2 separate regions of the Homo sapiens genome follow, and region 1 is linked to region 2. Evidence: fine-mapped expression QTL. A gene starts in region 2. The other region holds a variant in brackets. All regions are shown on one strand. Distances are between the middles of the regions.

Region 1 (5,366 bases), 150 kb after region 2:
CTGGTTTGGGGAGTAGAGTATAATAGGTCTAGTACAGAAACAGGACCTAGCTTAGACCAGCCTCCACCTGCGGGCTGGCTCTGGGGTTCATGGAGGCAGGGCTGAGCCCGCCACCCGTCCTGAGACAGCCTGGGGGGCCGCATTTGCAGACTGAGCTCTGGTCGCAGCATGACAAAGGCTTGCCCGTTGCAGTATCGAGGACTGAGTCTCAGGTGTGCCCATGTCCTGAGAGGCCACGGCTTGTCACTCACCAAAGTGGTGAGCATGGATCAAGCTAGGTGTCAAACACAGCCATCAGGACCGGCTCAGCTGCGGCACTTCAGTCCGGCTCTTTCCATGTGCTCTTCAATATGTGGCTTCAGTTCTGCAGGGCTGGAAGGGCAGTTGCTATTACCCCCATTTAAGGGATAAATAAATTGAGGCTGGGTGGTTGAGGGGTGTACACAGTCACACTGCCAAAGAGGCAGGGCTGGCTCTAGTACTGTGGCGTAGAGCCCTCTGGGTGCCTGAGTTCTCTCCAGGAGGCTGTTCTGGAATCAGCGAAGTCTTTATCCTCTTCTGGCCTTGCCATTGAAGAGGAGGAGCTCGTAAGCCCTTTCCATGGGCCCTCCCACGGCTTGTCCTCCCAACCTGTCAGTTCCATCACGCTGGAATGTTGCCAAGGATCAGACCCCCTCTCTAAAAGTGGTGATGGTATTTAATAACTAATTACTCTAATGATCCTGCAGAAATGCTGGAGACCTGTTTTAGGAGAGATGTCAATTAGAGCCATCTGCACGGTGAATAAAGGAGCCCTCCCCCAGCTGTACTGTTGAAACATGTTAGCGTTTTCCTACCAGCGGCCATATGGTACTTAACGAAAGTGAATTGTTCACACTGCACAACCCGCGCCTCCTGATGAATACTAGCATTTTGTTTTGGAAAATAGTTCTTCCATCGTGTGGAATATTTTTCAATGCAGTAAGTAGCAAGTTGGAAGCCAGCAAGCCCTTGAATGCAAAAAGACTCCCATCACCTCAAGATGCTCTTCCCTCCATCCCAGCCCATCCCCTGCCCCCGCCCAGCTGCCAAGCCCAGCTCCACCCCAGCTCCCACATCCCTCCTGGGCCCAGTTCTTAGCATCTGCTTCTGAATCTGCTCAGGAGAGTGGAGGCCACCAAGGGTTCTTGCCCCATCCCACCAGCTTTGTGTCTGTATGAACTTAGAAATGGAAAACCTGAAGCCATACACAGAGCACAGAGCTCTGTCTGGAAGGATGCAGACATGGGCAGAGTCTCCCCAGAGTTGAAAAGTAGGGTGGGGTGTTTAACTGGGTGTGTGGCCTCACAGAAGGGTTCGTTTTCTATCTGTAGGATGTTTGTTTTAAGAAGTGCAAAGTTCAGGTTGACACCTGGATGCACAGTGAGGTAGAGGGGGTAAGCTGGGACTGTATCTGGGACTCGGCAGAAGCCTGGCTGAGAAGCCTGTCTCCTCCTCGTCACCTGTACAGACAAGTTTCAAATAAATAGTGAGCGAAAGTCATTGCCACGTGGTGGCCAGACAGCTGGGACCAGGGTGCAGCCACCCTGTGGGTTCCATTAACCAAAAACAGGCATGTTGGGTTCTTGTTGCCTGGGACGTTTCAAAAGCAGACCACTGCCAACATGGGACCTATTTGGGGGGTGAGGCTCAGTTTTGTGATGCTCAAGGGAGAAGAACAGGCGACCGTCCCCATCAGTTCCATCCCCCACCCACCCACTACCAGATTGCTCTGGCAAGGGGACCCTCCGCCTCCCTCGTGGGGCTCTGTGGCCTCAGTGAGCTGAGACCCTGCCTCCGAGCCGCCAGGACGGAGCTGCTTTATTGCAGTCTGCCCTGGGACCAACGGGATTTCACTTGCCAGTAATATCTATTCCGGAACTTTCCCTAGAACCAGAGTCACTTATTAAAGCTTAATAAAAGGCCAGATTGACTGCAGTTAGTGACAGAGAAGACCTGCCGCAAGTCCTGGTACCCAAGACGCTCTTCACAAAACCGTGGGCCCATAAATCTCACTTATTTCCAATTCCGCAGCAACTGATCCCAAGTTACAATAATGATCCTAGGTTCAGCTGAACATGTCCTTAAAGGAAATCCTTCTGGGTGAAAAATAGCAGAAATGTGCTCCCATCTGTTCCTCATCAGCAGACTGCACTATACTATTTGCTTTCCACGTCTGTGCCCTGGATACTTTCTCACCCTCTTTGACACCTGGGACCATAGAGATGTGAACCTGAAAGAACCAAGTCGCCACGACTCCCAAGTGCCACCTCAGTAAGGGACCTCAACGGGACGACCAAGGCCCAGTGGAAGCCTCGACGGCCCTTGACCATGGAAGCTGCCCAGAGCATCTCAAATAAGTCAGCAGCCTTTCCACTGGGCCTATTCCACAACGACCCCCCACAGACCAGAACCCGCTCCACTGGGGCCATGCCTGGGAGTTACTCCAAAGAGTTAACCTTTCCTGGTGGGAGAGGGGTGGAGGGGAAGGCTGAGGCCATTTGACATGTGCTGCCTGGTCTGAACATGATGCTGTGCTCAGACACTGAATTTGATGAAGTGCATTGTAAAATTTAAAAACAAATTTAAAACTCTATTAACTCCCTGTAATGGCCTCCTCCTGCAGTACATAGACAACACCGGCTCACTGGCAAGGAGAAAAAGTACTCTGGTTTGCAGTGTGCTTGGCTTGAAGCAGAATGGAGACGGTGGGAGCTGGTGAAGGGAATGGGGAGCCCACGCACCCTCTGCACCCAGGGCAGCACCCAGGGCGGCACCCAGGCCCCTGCTAGTGGAGCTTTGTGGGATGTGCATCGCCAAGGTTAGACTTTTTCTTGCTCCTATGTTAAAATCTCACTTTCACTTTCCTTTGAAGCTAAAACACTTCCTTCAAGAATGCACCACTGGAGTGACAAGATTGTAAGATTATCTTAACTTGGGACTGAGGCCTGGGCGGTGGGGAGCTCACTAGAGGCCTGTGGTTTGGGGTCAGCATGGGGGTGGGTGTCAGGTGGGAGGAGGTGTGTTCCCAGCCTCACCCACTACACCCTCTGCACGGGGAGAAGGATCAGGGCAGGGAGACTGTTCGCCACAGGCCTCTGCAAATCGAGGCGCGTTCAGGGTAAGGGGAGGATTGGCCCGGCTCCAGGC[T/C]ACCAACTGGAGAGAGACGAACTTTTGTTGAGAAGGGAGACAGCCCCACAGCTGTGTGTGCACGTGGGCCGAGAGGAGGAGCTCAGCTGGCGGTGAGAAAGCCTGGGGGCCGAGGGGAGGGTTCCCTCTACGTCTCTGCAACTCACAGGCCCCCAAGCTGAGGAGCAGAAGGTGCTGCCTGGCCTGGTCTTTGACGAGTTCAAGGGATTTTCTGCCAACCAGTGGCTTCCCTGTGTGAGAGCGTCTCTCAGTTTTTCCTGAGCACGTAAAGTGGTTTGGAGATATTGGGGGAGGAAAAGGTGTACACATACGGCAGGCCTGGGGGTCAAAGGCAGCAGAGAAACCATGCGTATGTGTGAGTGTGTGCAGATCTGTGTGTGCACAAGTAAGCAGTGCCTTCTGATGTGGCTGCTTGTGGGCTAGTCCTAGGGCATGGGTTTGATGCGGACTCTTGCATCCAGGGAAGTATTTTTCTGAGAGTTCCCCCACCCTCTGGGGCTGGCATTCTACCCCCTTTGGAAAGAAAGCTGGGATGGTCTAAGCAGGGAGGGGTCCTGTGGAGACTTGTAGCTCCTGGCCCAGCAGGATTCATGGCATTTGGCGTCAGAGAAAACGTGAGCCTCTGCCGGGAGTGAAGCAGCTGATGCAAAACAAGGAGCCCTGGGTCGTAGATGCAGCTCTGTGCAGCCTCTGGGGAGCCTTGGCGCTGGCTCGCAGATCAAAGCTGGGAGACCTGGGAGCTCCCTGAAAGCTCCTTCCCTGGCAGCTGCAGATGGGGTGCGGCGTTTGGGCTGGGTGATGGCATTTGTAACAGTGTGAGGACCCCCCACTCTCCCGGGACTAACAGTGTAAATAAGAATTGGGGCATTTACGCCAATGAAGAGAACAGAATTTCCTTGTGCTGACAATCTAGAAGATCCGCTTGTGGACAGTTGAAATGCTAATTATAAGCTAACTCTGTTTTCAACCTTTGTGAACCCGGTTTGGGCTATTTTGTATCAATAAGACTGCTTTCAGAAAAAACAAATTTACTAATTAACTCCCTTTATTTTAAATACATGAGACTTTCCTATGGTGTCTGTTGTTTTTTTTTTTTTAAAGAAACGTGTGCGCTATGAGGTGTTTCCACAGCTCTTTTTGGGGTATGTAATAGTCCTCCTGATATTTTAATTGATATTTGAACCAAGTAAGGACCCGCCAATAGTTGAAAGTCCCCGGTTTCGGGGATGCCTTTCCAAGCAACCAGGGATTCCTGTCTGACATCCCGCTGAGCAGCACCCATTTTATCGTGTTTCTTCCCACAGCACAGGAAACAGGACAACCGGGGCTTCAGATCATGAGACCTGGTGTTGAATCCAGGTACAATGCTTTGTGAACCTGGGAAGTCACTTGGCCACATTGCAGTTAGTATGACTTACCTTGTAGGGTCCTTCTCATCATTGTTATTTTTATTAGATAAAATCACATTTGTGCAACACCTAGCCCAATGCCTGTTCCTTAACAGGCATTTAATAAGTGATGGTTATTATGTCTCAATGCCTTTGTTGACACATTATGTCTTCCCAGCGTGGAATTTTCCTCTCTTTATTGTTTTCTATTGAAATCCTTTGCGTCCTTTCAGAGGCTACTATGAATGCCCCCACCTCCGAGAAGCCTTCCTGTTTGGCCTTAGCCAGAATGACTTATTTCTTTGCAGCATCACAGATGCTAACTTCTGTTCCAGCCCAAGTTCCCGTCTTCCTTCTCTTCTGCTCAGTGTCTCTCCAGCTACACTGAGCTGCCCCTTTCCTGCCACAGCAGGGCCCAGCTCTGTGTATGGCACAGAGGCTCATAGAGTGGATGTGTTTTGAGTTGTTGAGTGAAGCTGAGGTCCCACAGTCTCTTTGAGGCTCCAGTGCTTCAAAACTTCCCTTGACAGACTACTGTGGGTGACTAGTCAACTGCAGAATTAGAAAGAAAAAACAGTGCCTTTTCTGGTCACTTAGAGCTGAGGGCATCTTGGATTTCACAGCCTAGAACCCCCTGCAGGCTTTTTGGATCCCCTAATCCTGTTGATGCTGCAGCAGTATCGACTGGCCCTAAAAGCAGCTGCTAAAATGCGTCTGGCACAAAGGAACTTTCTGGGCTGATGGAAATGGTCTGTATCATGATTGGGGTGGTGGTTAGGCAGGTGCATGCATTTGTCAAAACTCATCAGA
Region 2 (5,366 bases):
GGTGGGGTAAAAAGAACAGAGGCTTTGGGACAATCAGGCTGAAATTCCAGCACTGTCACTTACTGTGTGATTGCAGGTTCTCATCTACCCTCTCTGGAACTCAGTTTTGGGGGCTGATAACACCAATTCCACAGGTTGCTGTGAGGATTAACAAGATATCATGGGTAGAGTTCTTGGTACAGTGCCTGACATATAGTAGCCACTGGGTAAAGGTCCTTTTGTTGTGGCTATTATCATAAACACAGACAAGGACAGAAGTCCACCTTGGCCACTGTGGGTTTATGTGGCACCCCAGGTGTTCCTGATGTGACTTCCTCTGGTTCCTCCTTGGGTGATGGTGGCCTTTCCAGTACAAGTCCTTGTCTGATTGACTGCACAGATAATGGTCTATGATCTGAGCGGGGAATGGATGTCCTGGAGTGTTCCAGTCCACTTCCCTATGCACTATGAGTCCGCTCCTTCACTACCCATCTGCTTGGAGTGTACACATTAGTCCTGATCCCAGTGCCCAGATTGGGGCTCAGGACAGGGAGGGTTGGCTTTTGGAGAACACACCACCAAGTCAATCCTGTGTTTCATGGAGAAATCTTTGACCATGGTGTAAGAGGTTTCTGGGCACAACACACGAGTCCCATGAACCACACAGAGAGATCCATGCCAGTCATGGGGCCCATCCCATGGGCCACAGAGTAGAGCAAAGAATGACCCAAAAAAGATCCCAGACACCAGCAAGATCTACGTAGAGAGAGAGAGAGAGGAGACCCCTGACACAATGCAAATCCAGTTTATGTTGCCAAGACACTAGATGCGCTGGGACAGATCATGTGAACAACAGCACTCTGAAATGGAACTCATATGCAGACCAGCGCAGACCCTTCATAAATGGCTGTGTCCACACTAAACAGCTCCCAGCAGGGCAGAGCATCAATGACGAGGAAGCCTTGGATAAAACGAGGATGGGTGAGGACAGGGTAGACAAGCCCACTGGGAGTCTAATTCACACAGCTTTTCTCATTCTCCCTGACAAGCTGGCTCCCCTGGTGAGCTGTTACCAAACTTCAGCCCTGAAGAGTTTGCGGTGCCCCAGAACCAGCGCCCTTCGCACCACCATGGCCCGAGTAGGTCCTCCTCTGGATAAGACCTCAGCACAGCTCTCTTTTCTGATGCTGCCAGCAGGGAAATTGGGAGCATCCTTTCTCCTTCATCTGGAGAGGTAGCTGAATAAGGATTCTTGGAGTTCCTATTTTCTTCTTTCAACTGAGGATCATTCAAAATCATCTGTAAGACACTGTGAGTGCCTCACATTGCCAGATCTTAACCTATCCCAGACCCTGCAAACCTTGGCCACATTTCTGTAGTGCCTACAGCTGTCACATAGGGCGCTACTCCAGAATACGGCTGGGTGGACTTCTGCATGTTCACAGTCAGTGCATCCATGGAGATTATCTCAGAGGACAGCTTCCTACAGCGTGGATGAACAGACACACGCCTGTGGCTTTGTTCTCCTTCTTTTTGCATTGGGTTGACCTGTGTATCAATTTGAAATCCCAAGAAATCCCTCTTTTTTCCATTTTGCTATCTAGTACTCTTCTATCACTTTTCATATACCATTTGAAGGACATAGTACTCAAACCAAAGCTATCGATCACCTTCAGGTGTTGTCTGAGGACCCTTGGGGAGCTTTTCTCCCCCTCCCCCCCACTCCTGCTCCCCTTTTCGGCACCTCTGTCACCCTCTCTTAAGGTCACGCCAGTTTTCCTGGCTGTCGTCCTCATGAAGGGTGGCTTCCTCCCTGAAGTGCTCCGCTCTGTCCCCTCCCTTGAGTCCCGGGCTTCACACACACAAACTCTGTTGGATGTTTTTTCCAGGAAATGCAGTTATTCTGACACTAGTGGGCCATTTCCCCGGCGTCCTCATTCCATTTCTGACAGTGCTCCTGCTACCCTCAGTAGATTATTATTATTTATTATTTATCAGCCACGACACTGTACTCTGCTTCCTACAAAATATTAAAGAAGACACAATCCGTGCGCTGAGTTTACAGCCAAGGAGAGCAGAGGCCTGGATCAGACATCACAGGGGGGGAGCTGAGAAGAAAATATTTACCGGCTCAGTCCTCCTTGGCCCTGGTAGATGGAGGCAAGGACTGGCAAAGCCCTCCCCAGGCCAGCTCCTCCCAGCTGGGCCCCCACAGCCAGCTCCCCACACTACCTACAGCACCCCAACTCCAATTTCTAGCAAGGCCTCAGGCCTCAGGCCTTTACCCGGGGGAGCGGAGGGAGGGTGGAGGATGAGGATTGGGCCCTCAGGCCTTTACATTCAGACAGGGGTGGAGGAGGAGGGCAGGTACAGATATTTCCTCTGAAACTCAAAACCAGGTAAAGGGGATGTAGGGGAGGAGGGAGAGGTCGGGGAATAAAAACCAGATTAGGAGAGCGGTCGGGGTGGAGAAGACTGTGCCCAGAGTGAAATATTCTAGCATAATGGAAAAGCCCTCATTGGGGGTCCCACACGCCTCTGGCCAAATCTCTTCTATTAGGGTTAGAAGTTAGGGTCTGTGTAGACAGCATGTGTAGACCGAGAGGTGGTGGGACTGAGAAGTCAGTGTAGACAGTGTGAGAGAGAGCGAGCTGTGGTGGGGGTGAGTAGTCGGTATAGACATCAAAGGCTGGTCAGGCTGTTAAACAGAGAAGGCTTCCTGGATTCCTAAGGGTCAGTATGAACAGAAAAGTCGCGCGCCCCAGGAGAGGCAGGGCTGACTCAGAAGGCTGGTGGACACTTTGCAGGGCTCTCCCTGGTCCTTCAGAGGTGTGGACAATTCCTGCTCCTTTCCAAGGCTGGAGTGTCATAAAGAGGGCGGAAGCTGAAAGACGATTGGACTTTTTCCTTCTCAAACTTTTCCGCCAGTTTCCTCAGGTGTTGAGAGCAGACGGGGAGCTCGCCTCAGTCCCGGGCCCCCAACCCTGGGCCAGCAAGGCCAGGAGGCCACGGCGGAGCAGCCCGTGCCACGCGCCGTGCGTCTGCCGGGCGCGGCCGCGGAGCCAGGCGAGCCGGGGGCCACCGCGGGGGGCGGGGGCGGCGGACGGACGGACCGACGGACACACCCGCGAGCACTCCAACCTCGGACCCGGCGCGCGGCAGCCGGGAATCCCTCGGGCCGGGGAAACTGCGCACGGGGCCCGGCCTGGCCGGGCCGGGCCAGAGGGCCCCGCCTCCCCCACCCGCCACCCCCGCCCACTCGGGCGCCCGTGATTGGCTCCGCCCGCCCCTGGCTGCGCGCCGAAGCCCGCCTCCCTCGCAGCTAAAGCAGACGGTACCCGGAGCGGAGCGAGCCAGAAGGGAGCATGGTCCCCGCGCCGCGGCCGCGCCAGCCCCCGCGCCGCCGCCGCCGTCCCCGCCACCGCGGATCTCGCCGCAGCTCCAGCCCCGGCCCCGGCTCCGCAGCGCCCGTCCGCAGCCCCGGCGGTCGCCGCGCTTGAGCGCAGCCCCCGCCCGGAGCCCGAGCCGCGAGCCCGGAGCCAGCCCCAGCCCCGCGGCCGCCGCGGCTGCGGGGAGAGGGCGGGGGCGATGCTGCCGGAGCCGCCGCCGCCGCCGCCGCCTCGATGAGAGCCGCGCCGCACCGCTCATAGCCGCACAGGCTGACAGGCAGGAGGACCGACTTCCCTCTCCCGGGCATCCTCCCTGGGCTGCCGGGAGGCGGCGGCGGCGGAGGAGGAGGAGGAACGAGGGGAGAAGGCGGAGAGCAGGAACGCGAGGAGGAGGACCTGGATCCGTTTCCTCCGGCCAGGACCCGAGCGGCCCCAGCCACCGCTACCCGCCGGCGCTGTCCGCTCTCCATCAGCCCTCCTGCGCCCACCCGCGACCCCGGGCTCTCTGCGCGTCGGGCCGGGGCCGGAGCCGCGCGCCGGAGGTAAGAGCCGGGCCGGGCTGGAGCGCCTCGGATGCGGCGCCGGAGGGAGACCCAGGTCCTGGCCGCCGCGTGGGGCCGGGCCGGGCCGGGCGTGGGAGCGGGGCCGGAACCCGGAACCCTGGGCTCGGCTTCGGCGGCGGCGGCGGCGACAGGAGCCTCCCGCGTCTGGACTCGCAGGCTGCAGGAGCCCTTGCGCCTGCGCTGCTCCAGGGGGAAAAAAAGGGGGGGAAAAAACTTCCTGCCCCCGGGTGTGTATGCACCGGGGCTGCCTGGGGCCACTGTCACGGTGTTCGGAGGTGCTGGAGGCTTGTGTGACCCCTGGCCGGAGCAGCCCCCCTGCTGGGCCCGGCGGCGCGCGCCCCTCTCCAGGCCACGTTCCCCTGAGCGGCCCAGGGCCCCGGCCGGGCAGGAGACCTGGAGGCGACGGAGGGCTGGCCCCCAGGGGCGGCCGCGCGCACTGTCCTTTGGGGAGGTGCGCGCCTCTGTGCAGCGAGAAGCCAGGTTGGGGTTTTCTGCCCCTCGCGTCCTCTGATCTCGCATTTGGGGACTGGGTCTCTTTACTCAATCCCAAGTAACTTTCGAGGTAGATGAGCTCGAAAACCGTCGGGAGGGAACCCGCACAGACCTTATTGTGACCCACCCCACCCCGACACACACACGCACACTTCCCTTGACACCTTGTGGGTGCCAGCGTGTTGTGGGGGGACGCGGAAAGGAGAGCTCACGGGGACGGCGAAGCGGCCAGGAGGTGGTGTCGTTGGGGAGGGGTTGTTGATGTGTGGGACAGGGTGGACCTGGAGATGTGTAGTGTGGGAGTGTGAACGCGCGCCCCGATGGCCTCGGGGGGCCGGGGGAGCCCAGGGCTCGCGTCCCGGTCTCCGTGGCCTGGAGCGGGCTGAGAGCGCTAGGGTTATCTGCGGTCGCCGCGCGGGTGCCCGCGCTGGGCAGCGTCGGCCCCGGGCCCCAAGGGAGGGACGTGCTCGCCTGGGGCCGGAGCGCGGGGCTGGGAGCCGGGGTAGGTCGGAGGTGGCTCTTAGGGCAGGTCGCCTCTGCGTTGCCTGGGGAAGGCGGGGACGCGCTGCCTGCCTGCGGCCAGCCGTCTCGGAGGAGGGGGTGGCGGCCACGCGCGAGTCTCGGATGCCTGGGTCCACCCGCTGAGAAGCCAGTTGTCGTCCCTGGGCTGTGGAACCAAGCGGCAGACGCGGTCCGTTGGCGGGCCCTCGCGCGGGCCCCCAGAGATGCTGATGGGTAAGGAGCTGCCGCCGCCGCCGCTGCCATCCCCGCCGCTCTGCAAACGTTCTCCTCCCTCCCTCCCGTGCTTGCGCCGCGGCGCGCCCCGGGCGAATCGTGGACGCAGGTATTTATGTAGCATTAGGCGAGACCTCGGCGCTGGAGGGACCAGACCGTGGAGGACGCCGAGCTGCTGCTGCCTGCGAAACTTCCACTTCGGCAGCTC

The links. PIP is the estimated chance that this variant, and not a neighbour inherited with it, causes the effect.
Region 1: its variant is fine-mapped to the expression of KLHL29 in whole blood (TOPMed, PIP above 0.99).

Annotation. Positions count from the first base shown.
Region 1 is chr2:23,529,684-23,535,049 of GRCh38, forward strand. All of the region lies in intron 2 of KLHL29 (kelch like family member 29), which reads left to right. It overlaps LOC105374325 (a long non-coding RNA gene), which reads right to left and starts at 625. Exons shown (of 2, transcript XR_939831.2): 1 at 1-625. RefSeq lists an enhancer at 3,311-3,370. The variant T/C (reference allele first, on the strand shown) is at 3,169.
Region 2 is chr2:23,381,871-23,387,236 of GRCh38, forward strand. KLHL29 (kelch like family member 29) reads left to right here and starts at 3,309. Exons shown (of 14, transcript NM_052920.2): 1 at 3,309-3,910. LINC02923 (long intergenic non-protein coding RNA 2923) reads right to left here. Exons shown (of 6, transcript NR_187213.1): 1 at 1-5,366. RefSeq lists silencers at 1,248-1,542, 3,046-3,395, 3,566-4,425, 4,666-4,785, 4,806-4,975 and 1 more and an enhancer at 1,248-1,542.